Homo sapiens: one gene and its partners. The protein of the gene in region 4 interacts with the protein of the main gene of each other region in a biochemical or structural test. Each region holds a gene or a part of one and is shown on either strand. Other genes may lie near its edges. The genes, in order: PIM1, RABGAP1, UBE2K and SENP1.

Region 1 (8,163 bases), on a different chromosome or scaffold from region 4:
GTCTTCCCCATTTGCTTCTCAGAGGCCCACAAGTCTGGGGTCCCAGGGAGGCCAAGCATTTTCTAGAACACTGTGCTGGGTACCCTTCAATAGGAAGGTATTGACTAATATCTGGGTCCTCCAGTCTGCTTTCAGCTAAAAACTGACTCCCCTCTTAAACCTGTGGTTTTCAAACTTCAATAGTGGGGGCCTTTCCCACAACACCCACTCACCAGAAATAGGAAGGATGATGACAAGAGATTTTGATGAGACACCACTGAGCATGATGAAATGATTCAATTCACCTACCAACTTACAAACACGAACACCACCCACAGTGAGGTCACTGGTACCAAAATATTTGGAGCTGCTGCCTTAAAGAAGATGCTAAAAGAGCTTTTAACTTTTTACTCCCTGGCAAAACAGCCAGGAATTATCAGGTTTCTGTTGGTACCTTTAAAAAAGTTTTTGGAGAAGCCAGATTGTCTTTTCTTCTTAATATGCTCACACATGCCTTCCTCTGACCTCCCAAGGAAAGCTCAAGTGCAAACCATGTGATTTATGAGGCCAGCTCAAGTGTAAATCACTCACCTACAATTCTAAGCCAAGGGTGACAGAATCTACTGGAGAGTGAAGCTCTCCAGAATTTCAAAGACTGTCCCATGAAGACTAATAGCCCCATTAAGACCAATAACCCCATGGCCAGGGGTTTCCATCAGTTACCTGAAGAGACCCTCTGCCTGAAGAAAACCTGGCCCCTGATGATCTCTTCGTCATGCTCGAAAGGAATATCTCCACACACCATATCATACAGCAGGATCCCCAGGGACCAGACTGCCGCCGACCTGCCATGGTAGCGATGGTAGCGGATCCACTCTGGAGGGCTATACACTCGGGTCCCTGTGAGCCAAGGGAATAGAAGAGAAAACACACTTTTAGCAAAAACAAGCACAAAGAAGCTGGGTGGTATATATAACTCTTTCTTTTAAAAAAAAAAAAAATCCCTTCTCTCAGGAGCTAGGTGAACTCCATTTTTCCCTCTGGGCTAAGGAGAGTGGAGGCGCACCTTACGGCATCTCTCCAACCCAAAGCATTACCCACCTCTCTGCTAGCCCAAACCATAAACTGAAATTCTTTATGAACTGCTCCAAGAAACAAACACAGCTGGCCGCAGACCCAAAACTTGAGGCCCTGTGAGGCAGGACCGCCTGCGAAGGATGAAGGGATGCATGTCTGCACAACCAAGAAAGGTATCTCATAGACTATCCTTAAATTGCATTCACCACTGCCCAGGAGCCCGGGTGAGATTCTCATGGCCGACAGGATCCAAGCAAGGATGCTTGCACAACATCCTAAGTCAGGGTGCCCTTTGGGAGGCCTTCCTCCCCACCCGATGCAAGCAGGAGCAGACACCCACACCCTTTCCTCCCTAGACTGGAAAGGTAGACAGAGCTGCAGGGTTGGTTTCAGACCACGTGATTCCTGTTTACAAACTTTGGGTAGTAAAAGAAAAAGGAGGGGCCATGCCGCTGGTGCTCACCAGGGGGCAGCAAAGACTTGAAAGAAAAAACATGGGAGGACCCGGCCAGCCATTAACTGTTAAATACAAAAAATGCAGCCCAACCCAGCGTCCTCCAAGGGCAAATAAACATAAACCACAAGCCCGAGTCACAAGTTTTGAAAGGCTGTCGTTTGTTAGGTTAAGCCGCTCAGATGATGACCCACCCTCCGCAGCTTTGATCTCAGGCTCTCCATTCCTTCTTTTCTGAAAGAACCCGCTCCAAGCCCCTCCCTAGGATAGGTTTTCATCCTCTCTGCGGAGACACCCAACTAATTTTCAAACCAGCGACAGATCTTATTTCACAACATTCATTCCTGACTCTCTCTCCCCTTAACACTAAAGAAAAAAAAAAGCCACCAGTAATAATATAGTTCCTATTCCTTAACCTTCCCTAGATCAGAAAGGAGTTAAGAACTGCAGCTCTAAAACTACCATACAGAAAACTAACTCCCTTATAAAATAAAACAAAAATTACAAAACCGGCATCAATTTCCACCTCTTCCCCCGCCCCCATCCTTTTACTGGCGGGGAAACTGGGTCAGACTTTAGAAAAATCTGGGCTACCGCCGGTTGCCCACAACCTCTTATTCATCGGGAAAGCCTGGAACTAACTGAATTCCACTTGAAGAATAAAATCATGCCAGAAACATTACAGGTTCAGCTGGCTGAAAATCCCCGGCTTTACTACGCTGGGAGGCTCTCCTGCGTCCCACCCCGGCTAGCATCGAGCCAGGCGGCCCAATGACCTTTACAAAAGGCTGGCGCGGGAGACTGGCCGAGGCCTCCGGACTGGGCCGGGCCGGGCCGAGTCACCTGGGCAGCTCCCTCCCGGGCCTGGCTCACCATCGAAGTCCGTGTAGACGGTGTCCTTGAGCAGCGCCCCCGACCCGAAGTCGATGAGCTTGAGCTCGCCGCGATTGAGGTCGATAAGGATGTTTTCGTCCTTGATGTCGCGGTGGAGCACCCCGCAGTTGTGGCAGTGCCGCACGGCCTCCAGCACCTGCCAGAAGAAGCTGCGGGCCAGCTCCTCTTGCAGGGCTCCCCTTTCCGTGATGAAGTCGAAGAGATCTTGCACCGGCTCGGGCCTCTCCAGGATCAGGACGAAACTGTCGGGCCTCTCGAACCAGTCCAGGAGCCTAATGACGCCGGAGAAACCCGAGCTCACCTTCTTCAGCAGGACCACTTCCATGGGCACTCGAGTGCCATTAGGCTGCAGGGGCGAGGGGGCCGCGTTAGGGCGGGAGTCGGGGGCGCCCCTCACCCCACCCACTCATCCTGGGGGTCGCTCCTGCAGGGCACTCACCAGCTCTCCCCAGTCGGAAATCCGGTCCTTCTCCACGTGTTTGATGGCCACCTGGAAGCCCAGGGTCTCCGTCAGGTTCCCTCGTCCGGGCTAAAGCACGCCCGTGCGCCCCCCGCCCGGCGCGCCCTCCCCACCGCGGGGCGCCCACTCACCGGCAAGTTGTCGGAGACGCGGATGCCTGAGTAGACCGAGCCGAAGCCGCCGCTGCCCAGTAGCGGGCCCACCTGGTACTGCGACTCCAGGGGCTCCTTCTCCTTGCCTAGGAAAGGGGGAAGCACGGGGACTCAGTGCCGGCCCGCGAGCCGCCAGCTCCCCACCCAGGAGATCCCGCCGCCGCCCCGCATCCCCGGGCCGGAGGCGGGGGGTGCTCTCACCGGGCGCCAGCTTGGTGGCGTGCAGGTCGTTGCAGGGCGCGGCGCGCAGGTGGGCAAGCGAGTTGATTTTGGACAAGAGCATCCCAACCTCCAGGATGTCGGCGCAGGGACGGTGCCCAGAGGAGCTGCCGCAGGAGCCGGAGCCGGGGCTGTGCCGAAGGCTATGCCTGGGGCTGTGGCTGTGGCTGTGGCTGCGGGTGGCGTTGCGGCTGTGGCTGCGGCTGGCGCGGAAGGCCGAGGGCGAGTCGGAGGACAACTGAGGGCGCTGCCGGGACTGGCGGCGGGAGGGCGCGCCAGCGGGGTCGGGCAGCGCTGAGAACGGCGGGGTGAGCGGCTCGTGGGGCTCGTGCGGCAGCGCCGCGGGGCAGGAGGCTAGTGGTTGCTGCTGCTGCTGCTGCTGCTGCTGCTGCCGGTCCCGCCGCCGCCGCTGCCACCGACTCCTCTCGGGCCTCCTCAGCCACCGCGGCCGCTGCAGCAGACGCCCGGCTCGCCCCGCAGCCAGGAGTAAAGGGGAGGAGCGCGCCGGCGGGGAGGGCGCGCGGGGAGGGCGCGGCGGGCGGGGACGGGGCGGGGCCTCTCCGGGAGGCCAAGGCGGGGAGCAGGGCTGCCGGGCCGGCCGAGGGAGGAGAGGGGGTGGGGAAGCGGCGGGACTGGGCGACTCCCCTCGGCCCCCGCCCCGCGCGCTCTGTGGCCGCGCCCCGGCCCCGCCCCTGCCAGCGCTACTCCAGCCAACCAGAGGCCGATTGATCTGCATAACTCGGCGCGCCCCGCCCCCGCCCCGCCCAGCTCTCGCGGTCAGAATGGTCTCTACGCCGCCACGACGTGGCGGGAAGGAAAAGGCGCCAAAATGGAGGGGGAGGGGCGCGGGGCGTGAGGGGAGGCGGGAGCTGGGTGTAGGGCCGCGAGGGAGGAAGGATGGGGAGGGGCGTATCGATTCAAACCCAAACAATAACAAAGCCATCAAAGGCCGCCCGAGGCCGGCTCTGCGGCTCTCCGTTTCGCTGAGGGTTTTGGGTCAAGGGCTCGAGCCGGAGCATAACAAGTTGCGCGGAGACGACGGGCGTTAGTGTGTCAGGCGGGGAGGCCGGCGCGCCGGGTGTCGGACTGTGTGTGGGGATGCCGACGAGGGTGGTCTTTCTGTGTGACTCAGACCCGAGACCTCCAAGTCGGCTGGGGCGGGCTGACGTCGCGCTGTAGGCTGGGGGCGGATTCTGGGGGTTTGTGTGTTGGGGGGCGCGTCGGGGGCGAAGGATCCGCAGGACATGAGTCACGGAGGGAGTGGAGGAGTCAGGCCTGGAACAGAACTGGAGGCGGGAGCCCCGCTCCTGCGGGAAAGGGATGCAGCCCTCAGTCGTTCCGGCCGGCTAAAAGCTCAGCCACGGGATTCCCATTTTAGAAATGCAAAAGCACCAGCGAATCCTGATTTCTGGGAAGGGATGTGTGTCAAAGGGCCGGGTAAAGAGGAAATCACGAAGCAAATGTTAGTGTTGTGATGCCAGATGCTGCCTCAGCCCCTTCTGTGAGGGCGGAAAATTCCTCATCTAAAACGAGGGTGGGAGGGTGCGCTTGATTTAACCAGTTTTCACGTTGTAGTCACCTTTTCATCAGCCTGTTATTACCAGGCAGGCAATACCAGCAATTATTGGCCAACCCCAAGTCTTGTCTCAAAGGAAACCCCCCACCCTCTGCCTCCCTTGGAAATAACCCGGAACACTGACCAATTCCACTTGCATCCTTTGTCCTTTTAAACTTCATGTAGAGTTGATAACGACGTGTGAAATGAGTAAATTAAAATACTATATAATCCATAAATTGAATTGTCAGTGGCCTAAGTAATTGAAAGCTAACTACATTCTATTTTAATTTTTTGAAGTGCCTGCCATTTAAAGGAAAAATCAGGATCCCTATAGCTGTCATTAGTGAATTTAAATGTTTCCTTTGAAAGTTTTCTACAGTGCTTGCTTTATAAAAGTGCCCAGATCCTCCACAACTTTTATGAATTTATCCTACAAAATATTACATATTTTCCTTTTGTTTGTGTACTGTGGCCGAACTCATTCATTTTTTATGACTAGGAGAAAACCCAAGGGAACAAGAATTACTCCCTTTTTGCAGATAGGAAAATGAAACATAAATAGGATGGCACAGGGTCATACAGCAGCTAAGAGAGGAGATGAAATGACCCAAATTCACCTCCTGAGTATTCAAAGCTTTCCGCTTATCAGGGTCTAAAACTGTCCTTGGCACCGAACAAGACATCATTAAACATATGTGATTCCCACTTCCATCCCTTCTACCCTCCCTTTCCTTTCTCAAACCCTCAAATGTAGTCAAACAGAACTATTCCCACTTGTTCCCACTCGCCTAGCACTTTACAGACCCTTTGCCTTTGCGGAAGCAATCAACCTGTCCTGGGAGAGCCCTCTCTACCTCTCCACTTTTATTCAAAGCCTTTCCACTCTTTAGGAAACAATTGTAGTTCTACCACAGATTGATGAACAAACTCAGAGCATTGGTTCACTGTCCACTAATCTGACAGTTGGGATTTGTTTTTTTAAATCCTTTTTGTTCATTTACTTTTCCATTATACTTTGTCTTCCTATTCCTTGAATGCCCTTTTTTTTTTTTTTTTTGAGACGGAATCTCGCCCTGTTACCCAGGCTAGAGTGCAATGGCACTATCTCGGCTCACTGCAACCTCCATCTCCCGGGTTCAAACAATTGGTTCTCCTGCCTCAGCCTCCCAAGTAGCTGGGATTACAAGCGCCCGCCACCATGCCCAGCTAATTTTTGTATTTTTAGTAGAGACGGAGTTTCACCATGTTGGCCAGGCTGGTCTCGAACTCCTGACCTTATGATCCGCCTGCCTCGGCCTCCCAAAGTGCTGGGATTACAGGTGTGAACCACCATGCCCAGCCTCCTTGGATTACAGGTGTGAGCCACCATGCCCAGCCTCCCTGAATGCATACTTTATCCAACATTTGTTGATAAAAGAGAAGACTATAATGGATTCTAACAAAAAGGCCATAATTAAAGTCAATTTATACCAAATTTAAATGAATTAAGTGGGCTTCGGGAACATAAAAGTTGGGAGCAAGGGCTTTAAACTAAGTTAGCCTGGTTTCAATTCCGGGATCTGGCAGCTACTAGTTAGGCATTGGTCAAGTTACTTAACCTTATTAAGCTTTAGACAGAATGGAGATAATAACAGCATCTACCTCATAGGGTTGTTGTAAGGAGCAAATAAAACTCTTGTTTGTAAAGCATATAACCCAGTACAGAGTAAACTTCTAATAAATATTAGCAATGATGATGGCAATAATGTTGATCGTGGTTATGATGATGATGTTTTTTAAAACGGCCTTTTTTTTTTTTTTTTTTTTTTTGAGACGGAGTCTCGCTCTGTCTCCCAGGCTGGAGTACAGTGGCGCAATCTTGGCTCACTGCAAGCTCTGCCTCCCAGGTTCACGCCATTCTCCTGCCTCAGCCTCCCGAGTAGCTGGGACTACAGGCGCCTGCCACCACGCCTGGCTAATTTTTTATATTTTTAGTAGAGACGGGGTTTCACCGTGTTAGCCATGGTGGTCCCGATCTCCTGACCTTGTGATCCACCTGCCTTGGCCTCCCAGAGTGCTGGGATTACAGGCGTGAGCCACCGCGCCCAGCCCAAACGGTCTTACACCTAGAAGGTACCAAAGGTAAACTACTGGATTAATAGTTCGATTTTTAACCATTTGGGGAGAGATGTGATTTAAAATAGTTGTTTCTAGTAGATCTTTTAGGCCTTTTAGAAAAAAAAATATGTATCAACTTCAACCTTTTTCACTTTTTCTAGGTCTTTGAAGGACTAAATATTTAATTAGAGCTAAAGTGATTAACATTTAATATATCTACTTTGTATAGTGGGGGCTTCACAGCTGGAAGTTACAAAACATGGACCTTGCTTGGCAAACAGCTTTGATTTACTTAAAACTGCTTTAAAAGATAATTAGTAAACATTCAGATGTGTTGTGGGTCAAAAGTTACTCCTCGAGAGTAGGGAACTTGATGTTTTGATTTATCGAAATATAGTCTTAATAAAATTAGCACTATTTGTGCTATCTCAAAGAATCTAACAAAGAATCAGAAAAATCACCCTAATAATTAAATGACAAGTGCTTTTGGAAGGATAAAAGGCCACAATTATGCTAACAGTTCTCTGGGAAGAGGAGCATTTATTAATATTAATTTGAACAATATCCAAATTAATCCTTAGGTGGTTTTCATATTCTGCCTGATATGGGTTTAATCAAGTCATTGTCAAAGGAATGACTTCATCCAGGGACTATATGCTTATGCAAAAAAAAAAAACAAAAAAACAATGACTTCAGCAAGTTCTGTAGTCACGAAATTTTTTTAAAAAACAAGTTTAGAAGAAAGTTTGAAAGTGATATCGGTACACAATTTTTTAAAGTGTCTGTAAGTCTAGTCAATGCATTTATATAACTAGGATTGTATAACTAAGACTCTATACGCTATTTATAATTAATCAGGTAGAGACGTATTGAATCTGCATCACTCATTTATCTCCTAAAAAAAATTTACTCAGTTTTTTATTTATTTTATTTAGTTTATTTGTTTTTGAGACAGAGTCCCACTCTCGCCCAGGCTGGAGTGCAGTGGCATGATCTCGGGTCACTGCAGCCTCCCCTTCCCGGGTTCAAGCGATTCTCCTGCCTCAGCCTCCCAAGTAGCTGGGATTACAGGCGTCCGCCACAACACCCGACTAATTTTTGTATTTTTAGTAGAGACGGGTTTCATCAGGTTGGCCAGGCTGGTCTCAAACTCCTGACCTCAAGTGATCCGGCGGCCTCAGCCTCCCAAAGTGCTGGGATTACAGGCATGAGCCACCGCGCCTGGCCAGACAGGAAACATTCTAAATTTAAAAAGACCAGGCATGGTGGCTCA
Region 2 (7,896 bases), on a different chromosome or scaffold from region 4:
GGGTGTAGTGGCACATACCTGTAGTCCCAGCTACTCAGGAGGCTGAGGTGAGAGGACCGCTTGAGCCTGGGAGGTCCAGGCTGCAATGAGCTATGATTGTGCCACTGCACTCTAGCCTTGTCTCAAAAAAAAGAAAAAAAAAAAAACAAAAACAAAAAACCAGCACAGTAGAAGAAATCATGAAACCTGAAACCTGAATTCTGCCACTAACCAGGTGTACAACTAGGGAACTACAACCTCTTTTTGTTTTGATTTGTCTCAAAACAGGGATATTAATACTCTTCTATAGTTTGGCGGTTGGGGGGACAACGAGATTTCATTCGTAGGATTATAATATATAGGAAAGTATTTTGGGGAAAAAAAGGTTAAGAGTTATATAATACAGAAGAAAACATCATTAATATTATTTATATATTATAAATGTTAACACTAATATGTATTATAAATGTTATAAATATAATACATAAATAATTATGTATTATAAATGATCAGGAATAGTGAGACACTAAGTGAAAAACAGAATCTTAACTAATGCAAAATTATTTTACCTTCATGTTGCAGGCTAATTCCATTAGTTTTTTTGCATTTTCTTCTGAGCGGTATCTCTTAGGAAGCTGAACCCTAAAGAACTTCAAGGCACCTTCAAAGTCTGTCAACAGCAGGTCATCTTTCGAAGTCTTGAAGAAAATACAAACACATATAGAAAAAATGTGTTGCTATAAGGATGCACAAGAAGTTTTTTATATTCTCAGCACTTTTCAGCACTTTTACAATCCCCAGAAGATACTTCTTAGCTTTTGTCAGAGCCACCTGCATACATCCACTGTTAGGGGTAATGCTAGATTTCCAGCACTTTTATAATCCCCAGAAGATATTTCTTCGCTTTTGTCAGAGCCACCTGCATACATCCACTGTCATGGGTAATGCTAGTGCACAGTGACTGCTCAGAATGAGACTACAACCAATGTATTGCAAGTGCAGAGCAGGGAATGACAGATAACTCAGCTAATAAATAAATGAGTACCTTTAATAATCCAAGGGCGACATTAAAAATAACACTTATTCCCTGAAAGAGAACAGACAAAAAGAACACTGTCAGTTTTTATATCTCGACTATTATGCTATTTGTCCTTATACCCCACATTTTTAAAGAAATTGTGAAAACTTAAGGAAGGAAATGCATTATCTCAGAACTACCTTGAAAAATAAAAACTAAAGGGCCATTGAAAAGCTGCTTAAAGACCTAGCTTCCCCTTTTTCTGAGAGAAGAGCTTTTCTTGCCCTGTTCTCATATTCAATAATAAGAAATGCTTTTCCAAAGCATTCCATGCTTCCAAACCAAAAGATCAGTCATAAAGTTGTGATCTCTCAGGAAATAACTCCTGGGGAACTTTTCCTTTATCTTGTGCTGTCCCAATCCATGCACAGCAACCACTCTGTCGATAAGCCCTATATTCCAGAACTGAATCTGCTCAAGGCTCCCTCCATTCTGCAAATCCTGGGGCTAAGAACAAAGGAGAGGAAGCACTAACATCTGTTGATCAAGTTAAACTGCTTAAGCTGCTGGGCCTCAGTTTCCATAACTAATACTCTCCTATGGGTTTTCTGAGATAATTAGCTGAAAAGTTTATGTAAATTACTTAGCATGCCACCTGGCCTTTAGTAGCTACTTAACAGATGGTTGTTTATACTACTAAAAAGCTAGAAACAATTTAAAGGTTTGTGATTAGAAATTGGTTACATAAAGTATAGCACATCCAAATAATGGGATACTTGGCAGCAACTAAGAAAAACGGCATATTTGGTAATATTTATTTCTTCTGTTTCTTAGAATATTTCAAGCTGAGTGGTAGATACAAATTCTTTATGAATTTTTGTATGTTTTGAATATAGCATAATTAAAAAGGATAGTACAGATGTGTATGTTCAAGTATATGAAATTTAAAAAGAGGATACCAAAGAGTATAAATAACAATCATATTTTTAAATATACACATAGGAGAACCATAATATATATAGTGTTCCATCCATATGGAAACCATACTATTCTGTATAGTAATTATACATACACATATATGAACACATAAAAAAGGCTGAAAGGATACTGCTTTTAACCAAACTGTTAAAGGAGGTAACCTATAGACAGTGGGATTTGTAGTATTTTAAATTATTTTTACTTATATTTTCTATAAACATATATTATTTTTATAATTATGTTTTTCTTAAACACACCACACAAAATCCAAAATTACGTCATGGCAAAGACTGTTATTTACTCTAATATCTTATTTTCTCTTTAGTAATAAATCTCTAATTTTTAGCAAATTCCTGCTCAGCTTATTTTTTAAAAAGTCTCCCTTGCAGCTAGGTGTGGTCATGTAACTAAGTTCTGACCATAAAGTGGAAATACTGGATGGAACTTCCAGGAAGTCTCTTTTGAAAACAGAGGAGGCACCCTCTCCCATCCTCTAATCCTCCTGGCTTGAATATGATATAATGGCTGGTGTGCTACTCCTCCATACGGCTAACAGCCAGAGTGAGGGGAAGGCACGCTACTGCCAACATTGACTTTTTTTCACAAGAGAGCAAAAAGCTATTTTTTAAAATCACTGTTACTTTGGGTTTCTTCATTCAATACAGCCAAAACTAATATGAACTAATACAAATGTCTAATTCAGTACGTCTTTTCAGAGTACACCTTTAACAAATACGATCATTAGCTTTAGTCCAAGGAAGTCACTTAAACCTAGATTTCCTAGCAATAAAATAAAATAATTAAAGAGACCAATTCTGTTTTGACAGAGCTGACACTCAAAACAGAATCTGTTCTCCTCAAGTACACTGCAAACAAAAGCCAAAGTGCTGTGGCCTCTGATACATACCTCACATAAAAGCAGGTCGATGATATGGAAGACCATGTAGAGAGGGAATTTTGCAGTGAAAAGAGTAAGAAACCACTGGGAGGCATACATGTGTGCTTCAAGGCTTATATCCAGGAAGTGGTTGTACAGGTCAGGAATGTATTCCTGAAATAGCAAACCAATTAGTTCTGGGCACATATGCATCTGTCCAATTCCCACTAAGGAGGCTCATAAATCTACCAGGAATAGGCCAAAAAAGTAAAATACTTGTGTTTTTCTAAAAATCTCCAAAGTGCTTAGAACACTTATCATCTGGTATTAAGCTGGCACTCAACTCTTTTTTCCAGACCACAAACTTGTTCTAAAGAAAGAGGAATCCCCAAAATGGTGACAAGTATTTGGAAAGCCTGTTTTTCTCTCCAAAGTAAAAAACATTTGGGAAAGTTTGTTTCACTTTTGTTATGAGATTCCTAACCAGTCAGCTTCAGAGCCTTGGGGAGTACTTCTTGACTGAGTTAGCTGTGGAAAAGACCCCTAACAAAGTCATCTGATCTTTTGGGAGTTTATCAGCTCACATCCATGAGGTGTGAAAGTTTAACACTTTGTTAATCTTTGCATCATAATCACATAGTGATAAAGGATAAAAATGAAACCCATCCTTAGCCACGGATCGCTAAGGCAATTACCAATGCTCCCTGGCACCATTTCCTCAATTTGGTGCTCCTTAGTCCTGTACTCTTTTTGTCAAACACAAGCTGGTTTCTCTTTTTACCTGCATGAGGCGCTCCAACTGGTAAAATTTGCAATGCAAATCTTCGAAGTTTTGCTTGAAAAGTTCCCTGAGCCCATAGTCAAACATGATCTTGACCAGAACACTGAATGCCTGTTCTTCAGGCATCTGTAACAGATAGGCAAGTTGTTGGGTAGGGAGGATGGCGGTGGGGAATCACAAAACATACAGAAGTTTTCTCAGGATATTAAATCCAGCTTTATATTATTGCCTTACCAGAAAATTTAGTGCTATGCAGAAACTCAGGCCTAAGGTTGTGTTTAAAACATTTATTCACTCAAACAAGGAATAGTTAACAATGACTACTCTTTGTCAGTATGGTTCCTGTCCTCAAGGAGTCTCTCACACAGCCAGTATTAAAATAACTGTAATAGGAATTAGACATCAGTGATAATACAAGAACAGGAAGGCCTGTATCTGCCTAAGGCAGTCAGAAACAGACTTTGTAGAAAGGACAGAATTTGAGCTGAGCAGAAATAGGCTGATATACAGTGTAGGTGTCATCTTTCCCAAATCCTGGGACCTCTGTTTAACCATTTTTCCTCCCTTAGCTGCTATTTCATTCTAGCAAAATTGTTTTTCTTCCTCACTGTTAAAAATATAGCTTGTTTTAGAAGAACCTTACATATTCTAAGGCTTGCAGTAATGCTTGAAGTACTACAAAAGCCTCCTTCACTTCTATTTACATTTATAATAATACCTACATTTTCCATAGTTTTATGGATAATTATTTCCCTGAGAACTTGGCAAGATATTTTCAAAAGAGAAAAAAGAAGCACTGGAAATGTTATTTAAGGATTGGTGTGAATGTAGCAAGCCTTCAAAAAAGTCAAGAAGGTGGGCAGGCTTCTATGGAACAAGATGATGGAGGCGGGCTGAGCACAGAAATCACTGAGAAGAAAGCAGAACTAAAGAGCAAATCAGATTAAGTAATAAGTGAGAAAAGCATAGCAGATCATTACTGGTAAGTTAAGAGTATCTGGGGCAAAAGCCCAGATCTTTGAAGTCTTTGTCATGGAAGGCAACTTCACTTTGCCACATGCAAGGAGATGTGGCCTAACCCACAGTGGTGATTCTGATGCTAAGTAGCCCATCTCCCCTCACTCTAAACAAGCACTTATAACACTCTGGCAAGCAGCAAGAGTTCAAAACAAGACATGGAGGGTCTGATTGGAAAACCCATTTTCAAGGGGATAAATGTCCTTGAACTGAAGGTGAGAACGAAGATAAATCACCCAGGCTTGTGGGACTTTGAGATATAAAGTCTCATTAAAACAACAAAACAAAATAAAAAGTCAACCTCTTTATTCATGTCATAGCTTTATCATATTTTTACATGACTACCAATAGCAACAAGCTGGGTTCAGTTAAGAAAAACCAAAGTGGTTTTTGTTTTACTTGTACAGGTTGAGCAACCCATATCTGAAAATACAAAATGCTCCAAAATCTGAAACTTTTTAAACACTGACATGATGCTAAAAGGAAATGCTCATTGGAACACTTTGGATTTTTGGATTTGGGATGCTCAACCGGTATAATGCAAATATTCCAAAATCCAAAATCCAAAATCCACAACACTTCCGGTCCCAAGCATTTCAAATAAGGGATACTCAAACTTGTATTGCAATCTACACAAAATGGCTTAATACCCTTGAATACCTGTTGCTTAGAAAAGCAAGATTCAGACTCCTTATCTGGGCTTCAAAGCTCTCCCTAGCTCTCTCCTCAACTCCCAGTCACTCAGGATACTCCAGTCACACTGTCCTCCTTTCAGTTCCTCCCATACACCAAGTGTTTCCCCAGTTTAGGACTTCTGTATACTGTACCATTCACTTTCCCATTAACACTCTATTCTCTACTCCCTTTTCAAATAGATCTATTATTTTCATAACAACATTTTGAAAAGTTAACACAGAAAAGAGCAAAAGAAAATGATATCCCTTATCATTTTCCAGGCTGCTCCTTACAGGTCACTTCCCCTGAGAAGCCTTTAATCTAAGTAAGACTCCCTTGTTACAATCTTACACCAAACTTTTTATTATACCTTAATAGCACCACTGAAAGTAATAAATGATATACTTGTGTGATTATGTGCTTAAAGCTAGTTGGATTCACAAGCTCTGTATCCAGGAGGATTGAGACCATGTCTCTTATTTACCTCTGATCTTCAGCACAGTACAGATCATAACAGGTACTCAAAACTCTTTGCTGACATCACCTGTGTGGTATTCTTGCCAAGCATTTTAAACTGAATCATGAGAAAATGAGACAAATCAAGACTGTGGGACATTTTATATGACAATTTGTCTGAATTTTTCAAAACTATCAATGGCATGAAACACAAAAAAAGGCAAAGGAGTAATTTAGATTAAAAGAATAAAGAGAAATGACAATTCAATATTTGAATCTTCATTAGATCTTGATTAGAAAAAAAGCTAGATTCTATGGAGTAGACAATTGGGAGAAAATTGAATGTGTATTGTGTATCAGACATTACTGAATCAATGTGGAATTTCTTGGATGTGATCATGGTATTATGATTATGATACAGAATTCTGTGCTCCCAGAAGGCATATATATGATCAAGTATTTAGAAGTCTTGATGTTTGTTATTTACTTTCAAGAATAATTTCAAAAAACAATTTAAGTAAAAAAGAAAATGTGTGTTTATGCAGAAAAGAGAAAAAAAGAGATGCAGAGGGAGACAAACAGAAAAAGCAGTGTGGAAAATATTAATTGGTAAACTAGATAAAGACTGTTCACCTTAACACTGTTTAGAGTTTTCTGTGGATTTGAAAGAAAATAAAAAAGGTGGAGGGCAAAGGTGTTTGCTAAGCCAATGAATGAATAAAATGGTACTAAAAGAAAACCAACTTTTCCGCCTTCCTCCTACCCCAATACCTAAATCTCAAAACAAGTATTAATGACAGCGGCTACTTTAGAGAAGATAAAACGTCCCCAAGAGTTCAACCAACATTAAAGTCTCTCCAATCATCCTATTAATAAAAAGGAAGTCTACCCCTGTACCAGTTTTCAACATTGCCGTTTATTCTCATCATATATCTCCTCCACAATGACATTAAGTTAATTTAAGGAAAAAGTTTCCAGCTATAGGTGTTAAAATTCATGCCTTAAGAGTCTGTCCAAACCCAATATAAAACCATGCTCAAGCCTAAGGTTAGTATAAGCTGAGGGAGGCCATGTGTTAAGTCATAACAGAGACCTAATTACTCACATGGAGAAGGAGCACAGCAGCAAGAAATGACTGGCCCTGGCAATAACCAATCTCTTCATCATACACAGAATAAGCCTGGAAAATAAAACACACAGAGGAAATGTAAATGAATGTAGCCACTTGTGGGCCATGGTGGCACTATAGGACCTTGAATACAGAACCCTGGAGGATGCTACCCACACTGGGACAGCATTTTGACAGACAGTAAGTGGTGCCAATACTTCTCTCCAATCTTAACTTTTTCTTTACAATGAATACAGCTATCACCACTGCATTTCCTGTGGCGAAGGAGTAGGGAAGATTAAGGAAAAACCACTTCTGCGCTAAAAAAAACTTCGTATTTCCTTGTTGTTGTTCATGATGTTCCCTCTCCTTGGGATGTCCTTTCCCTCTCTGCCTCAAACATGCACTCTTCCTTCAGGCACCAAACTTATTTCAATTCCCCCAGAATGAATTCCTCTCTTCTCTGCCTCTATGGCACCTGCTATACATGCATGGTTATTATTATATTATTACCACATTGCATTTTATTTTATTTTTAGAGACAGGGTCTTGCTCTGTTGCTCAGGCTGGAGTGCAGTGGTACAATCATGGCTCACTGCAGCGTCAACCTCCTGGGCTCAAGGGATCCTGCTCCATCAGCCTCCTGAGTAGCCTGGACCACAGGCTTGCACCACCATGCCTGCCTAATTTTTAAAAATTTTTTATAGAGATGGGATCTCAACTACGTTGCCCAGGCTGGTCTCTAACCCCTAGGCTCAGACTATCCTCCTACCTTGGACTCCCAAAGTACTGGGATTACAGGTGTGAGCCAGTGTGCCTGGCCCACACTGCATTTTTTTTTTTTTTAATAGAGACAGGGTCTCACTATGTTGCCCAGGCTGGTCTCAAACTCCTAAGCTCAAGTGATCCTACTGCCTCAGCCTCACAAACTGCTAGGATTACAGGCGTGAGCCACCAAGCCCAGCCCCACACTGCATTTTACATGTCCATCTTCTCTGCCAGATGGT
Region 3 (7,896 bases), on a different chromosome or scaffold from region 4:
CCATGATTTTGAAGACAAGGCCACTATTACTGCATTCTGTAGAGAAGAAAAGGGGACAGGAAATTAAATCTCAAGGAAACATTTAAACAATACTGAATCATTCACTCTTTATACTGGGAATTAACACCTTGTTTCTTTTCTGTAAGTTGATTTACATTTGCAGTGCATGGAAAGCTTCTAAAATCAATGACAGTAATTAGTAAAAATAAAAAAATCACTGACTTTGAAAACAGAAAATATGTTTACCAAAACTAGATTTTCTCTTATTTTCCTTTTTTTTTTTTTTTTTTTTTTTTTTGAGACAGGGTCTTGCTCTATCACCAAGGCTGGAGTGCAGTGGCATGACTATCGCTCACTGCAGCCTCGACCTCCTGGGCCCAAGGGATTCTCTCACCTCAGCCTTCAGAGTAGCTGGAATTACAGGCACTCACTACCATGTCCAGCTAATTTTTGTAGAGATGGGTTTCGCCATGTTGCCCAGGCTGCGAATTTCTCTTATTTTCTAAACCACTTTTGTCAGCCAAGAATTTGCAATAATTTAAAATCAATCAATATATCAAAATCAACATGCCCTTATGTACTTACCCTATCAAAGCCCATAGCACATAGGTTTTCTATTTTTTTGGTGTATTCTGGACTAGAAACTGGTGCTCCAGCATACACATGTGCCCAAAGTCGAGCTGTCTGTTTGAACATTTCGGGATTTTGTTTGTACTATATGGGGGGAAAAATTGATTGACATGACATTACAGTTATAATATTTGATATATTTCAGCTCTTAATCGCCTACAATCCTACTTTTCCAAATAAAACAAATCTACATTTAAAATGTGATTCACTTTGCATTATAGACAACCTATGTCACTCGAGAAAAGACCACTTAACCTGAAGCTTCGACTCACAATTTGTGTTGACAATAATAAAGACAAGTAACATTAATCTACTTTAATCTCCAAATTCAACAAATATAACTAGCAAGACTAAAATTAGGTTAAGTGAGGTATTAAGAGATGTTCCAAACACTGGAAAGCAGCAAACATTATACAACTGAACACAGATTACTAGCTTATAAAAATATGTGGACATTAGAATAATTTTTTACGATGTAACCAGCTTTTGTATTACCCACAGCCCAGGCTAGAATACAACTAGATTCTTCTGTTTTCTTACAGCTGCATTAGTGTACAGTGATTTATGGAAACCCCACATGCAAAGTCCTAACTTATTACATAACTTGAGATGATTATAAACTCACAATAGAGTAATTTTATTAAAAGACTTCCCATATGCATTGGAAAGAGGTAAATTTATCAAATACTTTGGAACCACCATTACTTAGTAAAGCAAAGTATAAATTACTAACTATTCAATTCACTTTAATATTTCTTTTAAAAGTAATTTATATATTTAAATCTATTACATATTAAAACGATAAATCTAGTTTCTACCACTTATTCATCACAAGGAAATAAGTCAAATTATTGAACTATTTTAGGAGCTAAAAGAAACCCTTGAGTCCAACCTCAACGTGTAAGGCTTAGAGCTCAATAGGAAAGCAAAGCTGGAACACAAGCCATGCTTATAACAACAAATATGAACAAATAGCACATATATAAAACATGGAAAACCCTAATTGGAAGTACTCTGAGACAAATAACAGAATATATTGACAAGGATATATACATATATACATAAACAGATCTTCAAGGGAAAAGAAGAAAGATAATATATAAATTAAAATCTTATAGGTTAAAGAAGTTTGCCAAGAGGAAGTTTCCTCAGGCAGAGGAAATATGGTAGATTGGATACAATATGTAAAAATGAATGCAATGCTTGAAAAAGCATGAGTTTGAAGAAAACAAGAATTTAGGAAATAAAGCAGAGTTCAGATCATGGAAAAACTCTGCAAACTAAAGAATCTGGACTCAAGTAGATGACAGTAGAGCTACGAACAAGTTTTTGTTAGTGAAGTAAGATTTGCACTTTATAAAGCTACCTGATAGCAATGTAGAAGATGGAGAAAGGAAGAAAGAGGTTGAGAAAAGGAGATCTATCAGAGCAGTTGAAAAGAAACAATTTTTTAAAAGTGACCTATGGCAATCAGAGTAATTATGTAAATATAGTGACAGAATGATACAGGGAATGGTTATCAACAGGAGCAAAGGAGACACAGAGAAAAACTCCAAAGGCTGTGACTTGGGTGGTTAACCATATGAATGTTCCTTGGATACCTGAATGTAACACTGCCAAAACTGAATGCAGTATCATAAATCCTACAAACCTATCATTCTATGATACCATCACCTACCAATTTAGTTAAACACCAGGCTCTCGTGCTTAGGAGAGAGGGCAAGCCTAAACATTTTATCAATGTACAGGTACTAACATCAGTACAGATATGATCATCCAAGTGTGAGTGTGTACAGAAAGTAAAGGTAACAAGGTCAGAACTGAGGAACTACATTTAAGAAAGACGAGTAAGAAGGGAAATAATTGTGGGAACTAACAAAGAACAGCTATGAAGTGAGGAAGAAAAGAGGGTAATATCTTAGAAGTCAAGAGAAGAAAAACTTTCTAAGTTTAAAAAAAAAAATGTCCATTATATTCCAATGGCTTAGAGTAGGTGTTGGCAAATTTGTTTTTTGAGACAGGGTCCCGTTCTGTCACCCAGGCTGGAGTGCAATGGTGTGATCTCAGCTCACTGCAACCTCTGCCACCCAGGTTCAAGCGATTCTCCCACTTCAGCCTCTCAGGTAGCTGGGACTACAGGTGTGTGCCACCACGCCAGGCTAGTTTTGTGTTTTTAGTACAGACAGGATTTCACCACGTTGGTCAGGCTGGTCTGGAACTCCTGACCTCAAGTGATCCACCACCCACCTCAGCCTCCCAGAGTGCTGGGATTACATGCATGAGCCAACACACCTGGCCAGCAAACTGTTTCTTAACAGGTCAGATACTAATAACTTAGGTCCAGTCTCCGTTGTAACTAATAAACTCAGCCACTGTAGCTAGAAAGCGAAATGAAAAATATTTATTCTGTTCAACAAATTACAAGGTCATTGGAAACTGTGCCATGTCACATAAGTCCCATGATAGGAGGTGATTAAAATTATTAGCAGGGAGGGATCATCACTGAAAGGAAGGATAAAAAGATGGACACATACACGAGCATTAATCATAGAATCTAGATGGTAGGAATATGGGTGTTCACTATGTAATTCTTTTGACTTTATGTGTTTGAAAATACTCATGTTAGGAAAACAGCATCTATATCCAATTAAACTAGGATGTTAAAAGTCTATTTTCACTATTACACCTGACAAAATAATCCTACCACAAGAAAGAAAACCATTTCAAAATTTAGTTTCAATAGAGTATGCTCATGTGTTAATGTGCAAACCACTGAAGTGGCTAGAGACTCATACATAATATAAGAAAGTCTTTCAAAAGCGGCCATCTTACCTGATTTGCTACTACAGCATCCTGTGGATCATCTGGCTCTGCAGCTGCCAATAGTGCTTGCAATGACAATAATACCGTGCGGAGAGTCATTGCAGCTGCCCTAAAATGCAAAACATGAAAATATCCCAATTAAGAGGGCTCTGCAGGCAAAAGCAAAGTATTTTCTTAATAAAAATTAAAAAATTGTAGAGCTAAAAGTTACTTAGATCTTTATCTTAATTATATAGTTAAGTCATAGACATTTATAATTATGTATCTGCCTATCATATATTTTCTTCCTTACTTTACAATTTGCCTATTTCTTTTTTCTTTTTTTCCCCTGAGACGGAGTCTGGCTCTGTCGCCCAGGCTGGAGTGCAGTGGTATAGTCTCGGTTCACTGCAAGCTCCGCCTCCCGGGTTCACGCCATTCTCCTGCCTCAGCCTTCAGAGTAGCTGAGACTACAGGGGCCCGCCTTAACGCCCAGCTAATTTTTTGTATTTTTTTTTTTAGTAGAGACGGGGTTTCACAGTGTTAGCCAGGATGGTCTCGATCTCCTGACCTCGTAATCCGCCCGCCTTGGCCTCCCAATGTGCTGGGATTACAGGCATGAAAAACCACCTGCGCCCGGCCTTTTTTCTTTTTTTTAATGACAGTGTCTTGCTCTGCCGCTCAGGCTGGAGTGGGCAGTGGCACTATCTTGTCTCACTGCAACCTCCGCCTCCTGGGCTCAAGCGATTCTCCTGCCTCAGCCTCACGAGTAGCTGGGACTACAGGCACACACCACCACACCCAGCATTTTTTTTGTTTTTCCTTTTTTCGTAAAGACGGGGTTTTGCCATGTTGCCTAGGCTGGTATCGAACTTCTGAGCTCAGGTGATCCATCCACCTTGGCCTCCCAAAGGTTAGGGTTACAGGTGTGAGCTACTACACTCGGCCAGCTTTTCTATTTCTTAAGACAACTCGAATTCTGAACTGTCCTTGTTTTTCTTGTTGCCAAGATCCTTCTTGTTAGTTTAGTTTAGTTTAGTTTTGAGGCGGAGTCTCACTCTGTCGCCCAGGCTGGAGTGCAGTGGCGCGATCTCGGCTCCCTGCAAGCTCCGCCTCCCGGGTTCACGCTATTCTCCTGCCTCAGCCTCCCGAGTAGCTGGGACAACAGGCGCCCGCCACCACGCCCGGCTAATTTTTTGTATTTTTAGTAGAGACGGGGTTTCACTGTGTTAGCCAGGATGGTCTCGATCTCCTGACCTCGTGATCCGCCCGCCTCGGCCTCCCAAAGTGCTGGGATTACAGGCGTGAGCCACCGCGCCCAGCCACCTTCTTGTTAGTTTTATCCACTCACTTATTTTTCTATCCATTTCTCTAAACAAAGTTAAAGTGATAAATCATTAGTACTAATAGCATGTGAGGCTTTCTTTCAATGGCACTCTAAAAACAAGATACTATGAAACAAATATATTTTCTTTTTTCTTTTCTTTTATTTTCTTGAGATGGAGTCTCACTCTGCCGCCGAGGCTGGAGTGCAGTGGCGCGATCTCGGCTCACCGGAACCTCCACCTCCCTGGTTCAAGCAATTCTCCTGCCTCAGCCTCACAAGTAGCTGGGACTACAGGCACATGCCACCATGCCCGGCTAATTTTTTGTAGTTTTAGTAGAACAGGGTTTCACCGTGAGACACAGGATGGTCTTGATCTCCTGACCTTGTGATCCGCCCGCCTTGGCCTCCCAAAATGCTGGGATTACAGGCTTGAGCCACCGCGCCCGGCCATATTTTCAAGAAAATATGAAATCATTCCATAACATTCTGAAACAGGACAAGTTTTTTGGATTAAACTACATCACTTAATTTATGATTCTAAATGTATTTATAAGGAAAATATCTTTATAAAGCTAATATTTGTCTAAAAAATAGTATCTACCTGTCTAGCAATAATTCTTGGCATTTCTGTTAAAAAAAGTTGTCTCACTGGCTGGGCGCGGTGGCTCACACCTGTAATCCCAACACTTTGGGAGGCCAGGGCGGGCAATCATCTGAGGTCAGGAGTTCAAGACCAGCCTGGCCAACATGGTGAAACCTCATCTCTACAAAAAATGCAAAAATTAGCTGGGCGTGGTGGCATGTGCCTGTAATCCCAGCTGCTCAGGTGGCTGAGGAAGGAGAATCGCTTGAGCTCGGGAGGCGGAGGTTGCCGTGAGCCAAAATCATGCCATTGCACTCTAGCCTGGGCGACAGAGCGAGACTCCATCTCAAAAAAAAAAAAAAGTTGCTTTATCAATTAATAGAGGTATGTATAAATATGTGGACATATTAAAAATGTTACATGTAAAGAGAATGCCCATTTTTACCATGTAAATTAGATCATTCTTCTTTTTTTCTTTTTTTGAGATAGGGTCTCACGCTGCCTAGGCTAAAGTGCAGTGGTACAATCAAGGCTCACTGTAGCCTTGACCTCTTTGGCTCAGGTGATTCTCATACCTCAGCCTCCTGAGTAGCTGGGACTACAGGTGCACACCACCACGCCCAGCTAATTAAAAACAATTTTTTTTTTTTTTTTTTGGTAGAGACAGGGTTTCACCATGTTACCCAGGCTGGTCTTGAACTCCTGAGCTCAAGCAGTCCTCCCACCTCAGCCCCCGAAAGTGATGGGATTATAGGTGTGAGCCACGACAACTAGCCAATTACTCTAAACCAGCCTTTTTCAACTGGGTTCCTGATTTGAACCACAAAATAGAAAAAATTAGTGACTGTTTTCTCAATTTTCCCAAGTTTGGTACATAAATAGTACTTCCCTAGATGCCTACGATAAAAGTTAATTTAGGCTGGGTGCAGTGGCTGACGCCTGTAATCCCAGCATTTAGGAAGGCCGAGGCAGGCAGATCACTTGAGGCCAGGAGTTTGAGACCAGCCTGGGCAACATGGCGAAACACTGTCTGCCAAAAATACAAAAATTAGCCAGATGTGGTGGCACATGCTTGTAATCCCAGTTACTTGAGGGGCTGAGGCAGGAATCGCTCGAACCTGGGAGGCGAAGGTTATAGTGAGTCCAGATGGCGCCACCGCACTCCAGCCTGAGGGAGACAGCCAGACTGTCTCCTACACCTCCACCCCTAGCCAAAAAGTTAAGTTATTGCCAACAACCAACAATGGATGTCTTAAAGCAATGATCTCAGTGTTGTTCATCCAACCAGCAGCATCAGCATCCCTTGGGAAGTTTTCTCTATCCCAGAGCTACTGAATCAGAAACTCCAGGGTTTGAGTCCTAGCCGACGCCGTCGCCGCGCGCGCGAGGCCTGGAACACACCGCACGAGCCGCTCCCGCCCCTACCCCTTTACGCCCACGTGGAGCCGGCCCCGCCAGCGCGAGCGCGCCCTATACACCCTCCCGCCCTGCGCCTACATGCTGCCCTGGCTCTGCCCGTGTGTGGGGGGCGCTTCCGGCCCCGCGGGGGTGGGGAAAATAGGGGATTAAAAAAAAACAGCGCGCGGAACCGGGCCAGGGTTGCCCACCCCCGCCACAATGGCCTCTGGGGTGAAGTCCTGCGCTTCCAGCTGCCCGGCCACTAGGCCGCTACGCTACGGAACATGAACAAGCTCCGGGCAGAGGAGTGGTTCTGCGACGTGACCATTGTGGCCGACAGCCTCAAGTTTCGAGGCCACAAGGTCATCTTAGCCGCCTGCTCACCGTTCCTGCGGGACCAGTTCCTGCTTAACCCCAGCTCGGAGCTGCAGGTCTCCCTGATGCACAGTGCACGCATCGTGGCCGACCTGCTTCTCTCCTGCTACACGGGCACCCTGGAATTCGCTGTTAGGGACATCGTCAACTATCTTACAGCCACCTCCTACCTGCAGATGGAGCACGTGGTGGAGAAATGCCAGAATGCCCTCAGCCAGTTCACTGAGCCCAAAATAGGCCTCAAAGAGGATGGGGTCCGTGAGGCTAGCCTTGTGAGCAGCGTCAGCGCCAACAAGTCCCTCCTCCCTCCAGCCAGGACCCCAAAGCCAGCCCCGAAGCCCCCACCCCCCACCTCCTCTATCCCCTCCACTCCTGCGGCCAGTGAAGCTGGAGTTCCCACTGGATGAGGACTTGGAGCTGAAAGCCGAGGAAGAGGATGAGGATGAGGACGTATCTGACATCTGCATCGTCAAGGTGGAGTCGGCCCTGGACATCGCACACCGGCTCAAGCCCCCTGGAGGCCTGGGAGGGGGCCTGGGCATTGGAGGCTCCGTGGGTGGCCACCTTGGGGAGCTGGCCCAGAGCAGCGTGCCCCCCAGCACTGTGGCCCCACCGCAGGGTGTGGTGAAGGCCTGCTATAGCCTGTCGGAGAACGCAGAAGGGGAGAGCCTGCTGTTGACTCCGGGAGGCCGGGCCAGCGTGGGGGCCACCTCGGGCCTGGTGGAAGCAGCAGCGGCGGCCATGGTTGCCCGGGGGGCGGGGGGCAGCCAGGGACCCCTGC
Region 4 (5,579 bases):
CAGCTCAAAGCCTCCTAGCCACTCTTTTCTCTCCCACAAAGGAAGTATGTGTAAGGTATCCTTTATTTTAACAGGTGACCAGCATAACCCTCTGTCCCACGTTTCCTTTTCCACCTTCAAAGCTGGGAATGGTAGTGTGTGTTCTTAGTAGACAGATGTTAGGAGTCAGTACAGGTAAAACAAGGCCCTAGACTTATAATAAAGGATGCTGGGATGAGCCTTGTCCCTTCCCATGGAATTCCAAGCTGTAGATGCATTGCTCCTGGGCGGGAAAATAAGGTACCCTTCCCAGTAGTTCAGCACGTGGCCTGTTTAACAATAGGGCCTAATAGCCTAACACCTCTTTTTCTGACTCTCTTGGGTATGTGAACTCCCAGGGTGAAAGCATCATATTCCACCTCATGCTAGTCCATCCAGGTGGACCAAACAAAAAGAAACCCCAGGTGTCAGTCCTCTCTCTTACTCCAGCAAGACATATTTAAAAGCTGGAGGGATGGCACAGGACCAGAAACTGAAACATTAAAAACATTGGGGCTCTCAAGTGAACTCTTCCCCCTTTACCCACTAGAGCCACTTAAGGGCCATGTAAAACCAGGCAGTAATGGACAGGCTATGAGATGGGGTTGGTGGAAGTGCTTTTCCAGGTTATCTCTGTTTCTACCTCAGGATCTTGGTGCTAACATTGCTGGGGGCAGTGGATAGAAGATGCTAGCATGATTACAGTGGCTAAAGAATACAGAAATTAATTCCACATAGAAGTATGAAGCATCTCATACAGAGGAGTCAATTGACACAAATTCCCCAGACTGGATGAGGGAAAAGTACTCTTATATTCAACCCTAAATAGGACTCCTGGGAGCAATGGTGGGTCCCAGGTGACAAATGGGATGTAACTAGCCTCTGTGCCTCAGACCATGTGTTTCTCAAATGGGTAAGAAAGGTCTGTCTGATATTCTCTGTTCAGGGTCTCGGAGTGATTCTTGGGATTATGGTTTCTGTTGAGGTCTCTATAGCTGGCATCTAGTGCTTATCATCCCTCAAATATTCCTTTTTTAGGGAAGGCAGGTGAATATGAGCAGTGGACACAGGAGAAAGGGGAACACAGGAGAAAAAAGTCTTATTTAGTTTAAAGTAAATTACATAAGATATTAATAACATGCCTTTGGGCCATAAAATGCAGAAATACCTTTTTTTTTTTCCTGGTCATCAAAGCCTACCCCTAAACAAAGGGGAAAGTTTCCAGATACTACTCCTGCTCTTGTTGGCTAGCTCAGGAAAGAATGGTCCACTGTGTAAGTCTGTATTTGGACCAGGTCCAGGGTGGTAAGATGGTCTCAGGGTCACTAACTTCTACCTTGTGCAAAACTGCATTAGTCAGAAAGGGGGCCCAAATTCAGACAGGCTCAACAATTCCTTATATATTTTTCAAAGTGCTTTTGTTGCATGTTTCATTTTCTGCTATACATGGCAATAAATATTTGTTGCTTTGGTCTGTACAAAGTCTGTGAGGAAGGTAAGACAGATGTTACCTAAATGGACAAACAATAAATACAGAGAACAATCTTGTTCTGAGTCCCCCAGACAATAGTGAAAGAACCTGAAAAAGGTCTTTTGATTCATAGTCCAAATCGACACCATATTGCCACCTTTCAAGTTGTTGCTTACATACAGTAAATACCAAGAACCAGACAATATTCCAGGAGTCCTGCAATGAGACTGCATGCCACAGCTTTCTAAAAGAGAATGTGAAGGTCCCCAGCAACTCATATATAGAAAGCTATTTATTTCCTATAGAAAACTCAAAAACAAAGAAAAAGAAAGAAAAATAAAGAGAGATAGAAAGAGAAAGGGAAAGAAAGAGAGAGAAAAAACAAACACACAAAAGGTGGTCTTTCCCCAAAAGGCAGGCAGTTGAAGGGAGGACATGTAGTTGCTGGAGTGGAAACAGTAACATTCAGTTAACAATGGAATATTTAAAAAAAATAGTTTTCTTTTCAAATTGTAACTTGTGGTAAAACATAGAAAAATGTACTAAACGAGCTTGTATAAAACAGTAAAATTTTCAAATAAGCCCAGGGAAAAAGCACAATGCTGGAAAGAATGCGGTACAACGGGAGAGGAGAAAAGATTTCATACAAAACTACCTATTACAATACAGAAAAAAGTATAAAATGTTCCTACTTTGGAACTTAAGTACAAAATGACACTGGCATTTGATCACTTCACTATCTAAGCCTGAGGAGCTCTCAGAGGGTGGGGAGAGATGCTAGAAAGAACAAAAGGAATAGCAGTTTTTAAATCTCAAGTTGATCAGTCCAAACTCCACCCGTTTTTTTTTTTAGCTGAAAATATCACCTCCCTCTGTAACCTCTACCCATATGGCAAAGTTCATCCAGGCCTCAAAAATATTCCATTAGGTAGTCCACAAACACCCTACTCATAGGGGCTGGGATCTCTGTGTGCTGGAATTTGGAAAATGGAAATAAATCTACAGGCTAAATGGTGAACACATTCAGTCTTTAAAAAAAAAAGCATATCCCTGTGAAATTTTATACATACATATATATATATATATATGTATGTGTATATATATATGTATATATATATGAAATTCTCTGTGGTTAGAAACATATTTAAACTAGCCACAGACCAAACTAGATCTGCATTCATCCAGCGCTGGAATTTTATGCTAAATACTAAGGTCCTTTTTCTTCTTGGTCAGAAGTAGGCAACAGTAAAAGTGGTGCTTTGTTGCGCCACTGAAACCGCTCCCTGGGTGGGTCTTCCCCGTATCATGTGTTGGTAGCACATGCAAACCCCTGCTTTCACGGAAAGGACTGCTTGGAACTTTGGGACCTGTCCAGGGCTCATGTGCTGTGCCTCCGGATAGGATGAAGCTACAGATGATAAAACAGCTACGTATAAAAGCAGATGGATTTTGTATAGGGACATATAAATAGGAAAGGTCCTGGAGGAAGGGACTTATGCCTGGGCCCCAAAGTCCAGTTTACAGTCACATTCCTGACCATACATCGTGAAAATTGTGTGTGTGTGTGTGTTTGTGTGTGTGGGTGTGTGTGTATGTCCATGTATATGCTGGTGGTTTTTATCCCTACCTTTTGCCCATGCCCTTTCCTACTTCTTAGTAAGGCCTAACAACAAGAATTTATATGAAACCAAGATTCTTTCCAAGCTTTTCTCAGTCCCATAATTAGGGACTGAGTGAGGCTGGAGCCCTTTGAAAACAAGATGGCAGAACTGAAGAAGTGAAAAGCAGTCTCTCTCTTCAGCTTAGGGATGTCCCTCACCCCTTTCACAGCACCAAAGTTTCTTTGCAAAAATAGTATCTGAGATACAAAAGGAAAGGCAGATGTGCTTGTGAATGCATCTCGCCAGGGCCTGGTCCAGGATCAAGGGTGTTACAACAGCAGAGGGCTGGGAGCAGCTGTTTCCAAGGTCTCTGGCTGTAGACAACAAAGAGCTGGTCCCCCACATGGTCAAGGTCTGCTAAGTGAGACAGTCTTCACAAGAGTTTTCGGTGGAGGATCTCCCAGACCATCCGCTTCCGGAAGTATGGCATGTGTTGCTGTAGGGACACAGAGACACCCTTAATTTTCAATGCTTTTGTCTAGACCTGATACGCCTTTCCCCATACTTCTTTCTTTTGCAAGGTTTTCAACAAACAGTCTCAGTTGTATTTCTGGTCTTTTAAATTATTCATTCTTGGTTACATGTAGTTTTTTTCTTTTCATTGCTTTTTCTATTGTTATTTTTCACCATTATAGCCTTAGAAGTTACACTGGGTATTTCCAGGAATCCCCAGGCTATGCCCACGTCTCTAAGAATTTTGAGAATGGTGTCTAATAAGTCTTCTATGTTGAACTTTTAAGAGGATATGAGCCTAGGCCTAAAAATAAAAAATTCACCTTTTAGAAGAATTAAGGGAACTTGAAGAGTCAGCTCAGGCTGGTCTAGACAAAGGGCTATGGTAGAAAAATCTGGTAAAGTCACTGATTCAAACAGAAGTAAAAGTGGAGAACACATCAGAATAAACCATAATCTCTAATCTCAATCCACTTTGGTCTGAGAGACCACATGGACAGAAATGACCAATCACTCTCTAAGAGAAGACTGACCAGATTCATCAAGTGAGGGGTCAGGGGAGGGGGCAGCATAACAAATTACACTAGGAGATTGAGGTATGGCCTATTCCCAAACCTGACTACTAACGAAATGCAAGGGAACTAAAGAAACCTGCTCTGGTCCCAGTTCTCTCTAGAAGTTACAGTAGGTAGAGGAGACAGGCAGAGAAGGTTCTGCTCTTGAAACCTTTACTACAATAACTGAGGTGTGGTAACCCAGGACGTGGCTTATCACTAATTTTCTTTCTTTTGTGATGTGATTCAGGTAGTAACCATCAGTGTTATGAATCATGGGCTGAAGCATGCTAAAGGTTAGGGTAGAGGCCCCTAAAGAGAACAACTGGAGAGAAAAACATCTACAGGGCAGCTTGGAGACAAAGTAATCCTAGAGCTCCCTATGGAAGGCTCAGCTCACCTGTGTGAAGTTGATTGGTCTGTCTTTGGTAATACAGTCAGCATATTTGCAGGCAAACATCCCACAGTCACTTCCATTCATCTGCTGAGGAATCTCCTGGAAGACCAACAACAAAAAAAATGACATCTTTCCAAGCTTCTTTCCTTCTTAGATTAAAAATAAGAACCAAAAGATATAAATTGTACAGGTTTCTCTAAATTACAAACAGATGACTCTGGCCCCCCAGTCAGGACAACAGAGGCTCAAAGAAACAAAATACAACATTCCAGTCAGGTCTGTGTACTCTGTATTAATCAAACAGGAGAATATCTCCGACTCCCATGGCACCTAAGGGTATAAAAACTGCTCCCTCCCCCAGAGGCCAAATAATCAGCAAACATTCCCCTTAGGAGTGAAAAGCTTAGTAAAATATCTGGGCATTTAGAAAACCTAGTTCTACATAAGAAACACACTATCACTTTTCCTACGGATAGCTTAATTTATCCTCCCCCAGAAACCAACCAACCAAGCTGAAGTCAGGCTAGACACGAACACAGGTGGTCCCTGGGAATTAAGCAGTAAAATTCTTTCCTCCCCAAATACCCTACTTTTAGGACTTTTATTTCATCAAGATGAAAGGTACCTGGCTTTTCTTGCTGAAAAGCTGCCAGCCATTGGTGTCAAACTCTTTCCTTTTCTTGTCAATGCTTTCTTGCTTTAGGTATTGCCTAAAGGTATCAGGAGAGAATGAGATAAGCAGTGGGGAACATCGATGACAGCTGCCACACTAAGAATGGGGCTGACAATACCTAGGAACAAATTTGTTTCATCTGCTCTTCTGAGGAAAAGAGTATATAATACTGGGCAGGGAATCCCTGGATTGTTAAGTTTTCTCCAGAGCTGAGCATGCCTCTTCTAGCTTGTCTCTTCTAATGTCCACTCTGTCAACTCAAAAGGAACATGACCTCTGCCTCTAACAGTTAAGCTCCTTCTACCTACCATTCCTTCTGAGGAACAATTCTTTTTATTCTTTTCCTTGGTTT

The links.
Region 1: of the proteins of SENP1 (region 4) and PIM1, one has a biochemical effect on the other in vitro, tested with the Homo sapiens proteins (one study listed by BioGRID).
Region 2: of the proteins of SENP1 (region 4) and RABGAP1, one has a biochemical effect on the other in vitro, tested with the Homo sapiens proteins (one study listed by BioGRID).
Region 3: of the proteins of SENP1 (region 4) and UBE2K, one has a biochemical effect on the other in vitro, tested with the Homo sapiens proteins (one study listed by BioGRID).

What each region holds. Positions count from the first base shown.
Region 1 is NC_000006.12:37,165,712-37,173,874, reverse strand, and holds the start of PIM1 (serine/threonine-protein kinase pim-1), read right to left. Parts: upstream 3,724-8,163; 5' UTR 3,573-3,723; coding exon of another isoform or gene 3,300-3,572; coding exon 3,218-3,299; intron 3,103-3,217; coding exon 2,996-3,102; intron 2,895-2,995; coding exon 2,844-2,894; intron 2,751-2,843; coding exon 2,384-2,750; intron 880-2,383; coding exon 703-879; intron 1-702. UniProt on the Homo sapiens protein: Proto-oncogene with serine/threonine kinase activity involved in cell survival and cell proliferation and thus providing a selective advantage in tumorigenesis.
Region 2 is NC_000009.12:123,069,415-123,077,310, reverse strand, and holds part of RABGAP1 (rab GTPase-activating protein 1), read right to left. Parts: intron 6,962-7,896; coding exon 6,887-6,961; intron 5,900-6,886; coding exon of another isoform or gene 5,834-5,899; exon of another isoform or gene 5,810-5,833; intron 3,760-5,809; coding exon 3,634-3,759; intron 3,027-3,633; coding exon 2,883-3,026; intron 1,067-2,882; coding exon 1,025-1,066; intron 678-1,024; coding exon 549-677; coding exon of another isoform or gene 540-548; intron 1-539. UniProt on the Homo sapiens protein: May act as a GTPase-activating protein of RAB6A. May play a role in microtubule nucleation by centrosome. May participate in a RAB6A-mediated pathway involved in the metaphase-anaphase transition.
Region 3 is NC_000004.12:39,770,500-39,778,395, reverse strand, and holds part of UBE2K (ubiquitin-conjugating enzyme E2 K), read right to left. Parts: exon of another isoform or gene 6,697-7,896; intron 3,563-6,696; coding exon 3,463-3,562; intron 715-3,462; coding exon 586-714; intron 37-585; coding exon 1-36. UniProt on the Homo sapiens protein: Accepts ubiquitin from the E1 complex and catalyzes its covalent attachment to other proteins. In vitro, in the presence or in the absence of BRCA1-BARD1 E3 ubiquitin-protein ligase complex, catalyzes the synthesis of 'Lys-48'-linked polyubiquitin chains.
Region 4 is NC_000012.12:48,041,799-48,047,377, forward strand, and holds the end of SENP1 (sentrin-specific protease 1), read right to left. Parts: intron 5,265-5,579; coding exon 5,180-5,264; intron 4,654-5,179; coding exon 4,558-4,653; intron 3,587-4,557; coding exon 3,524-3,586; 3' UTR 1,099-3,523; downstream 1-1,098. UniProt on the Homo sapiens protein: Protease that catalyzes two essential functions in the SUMO pathway.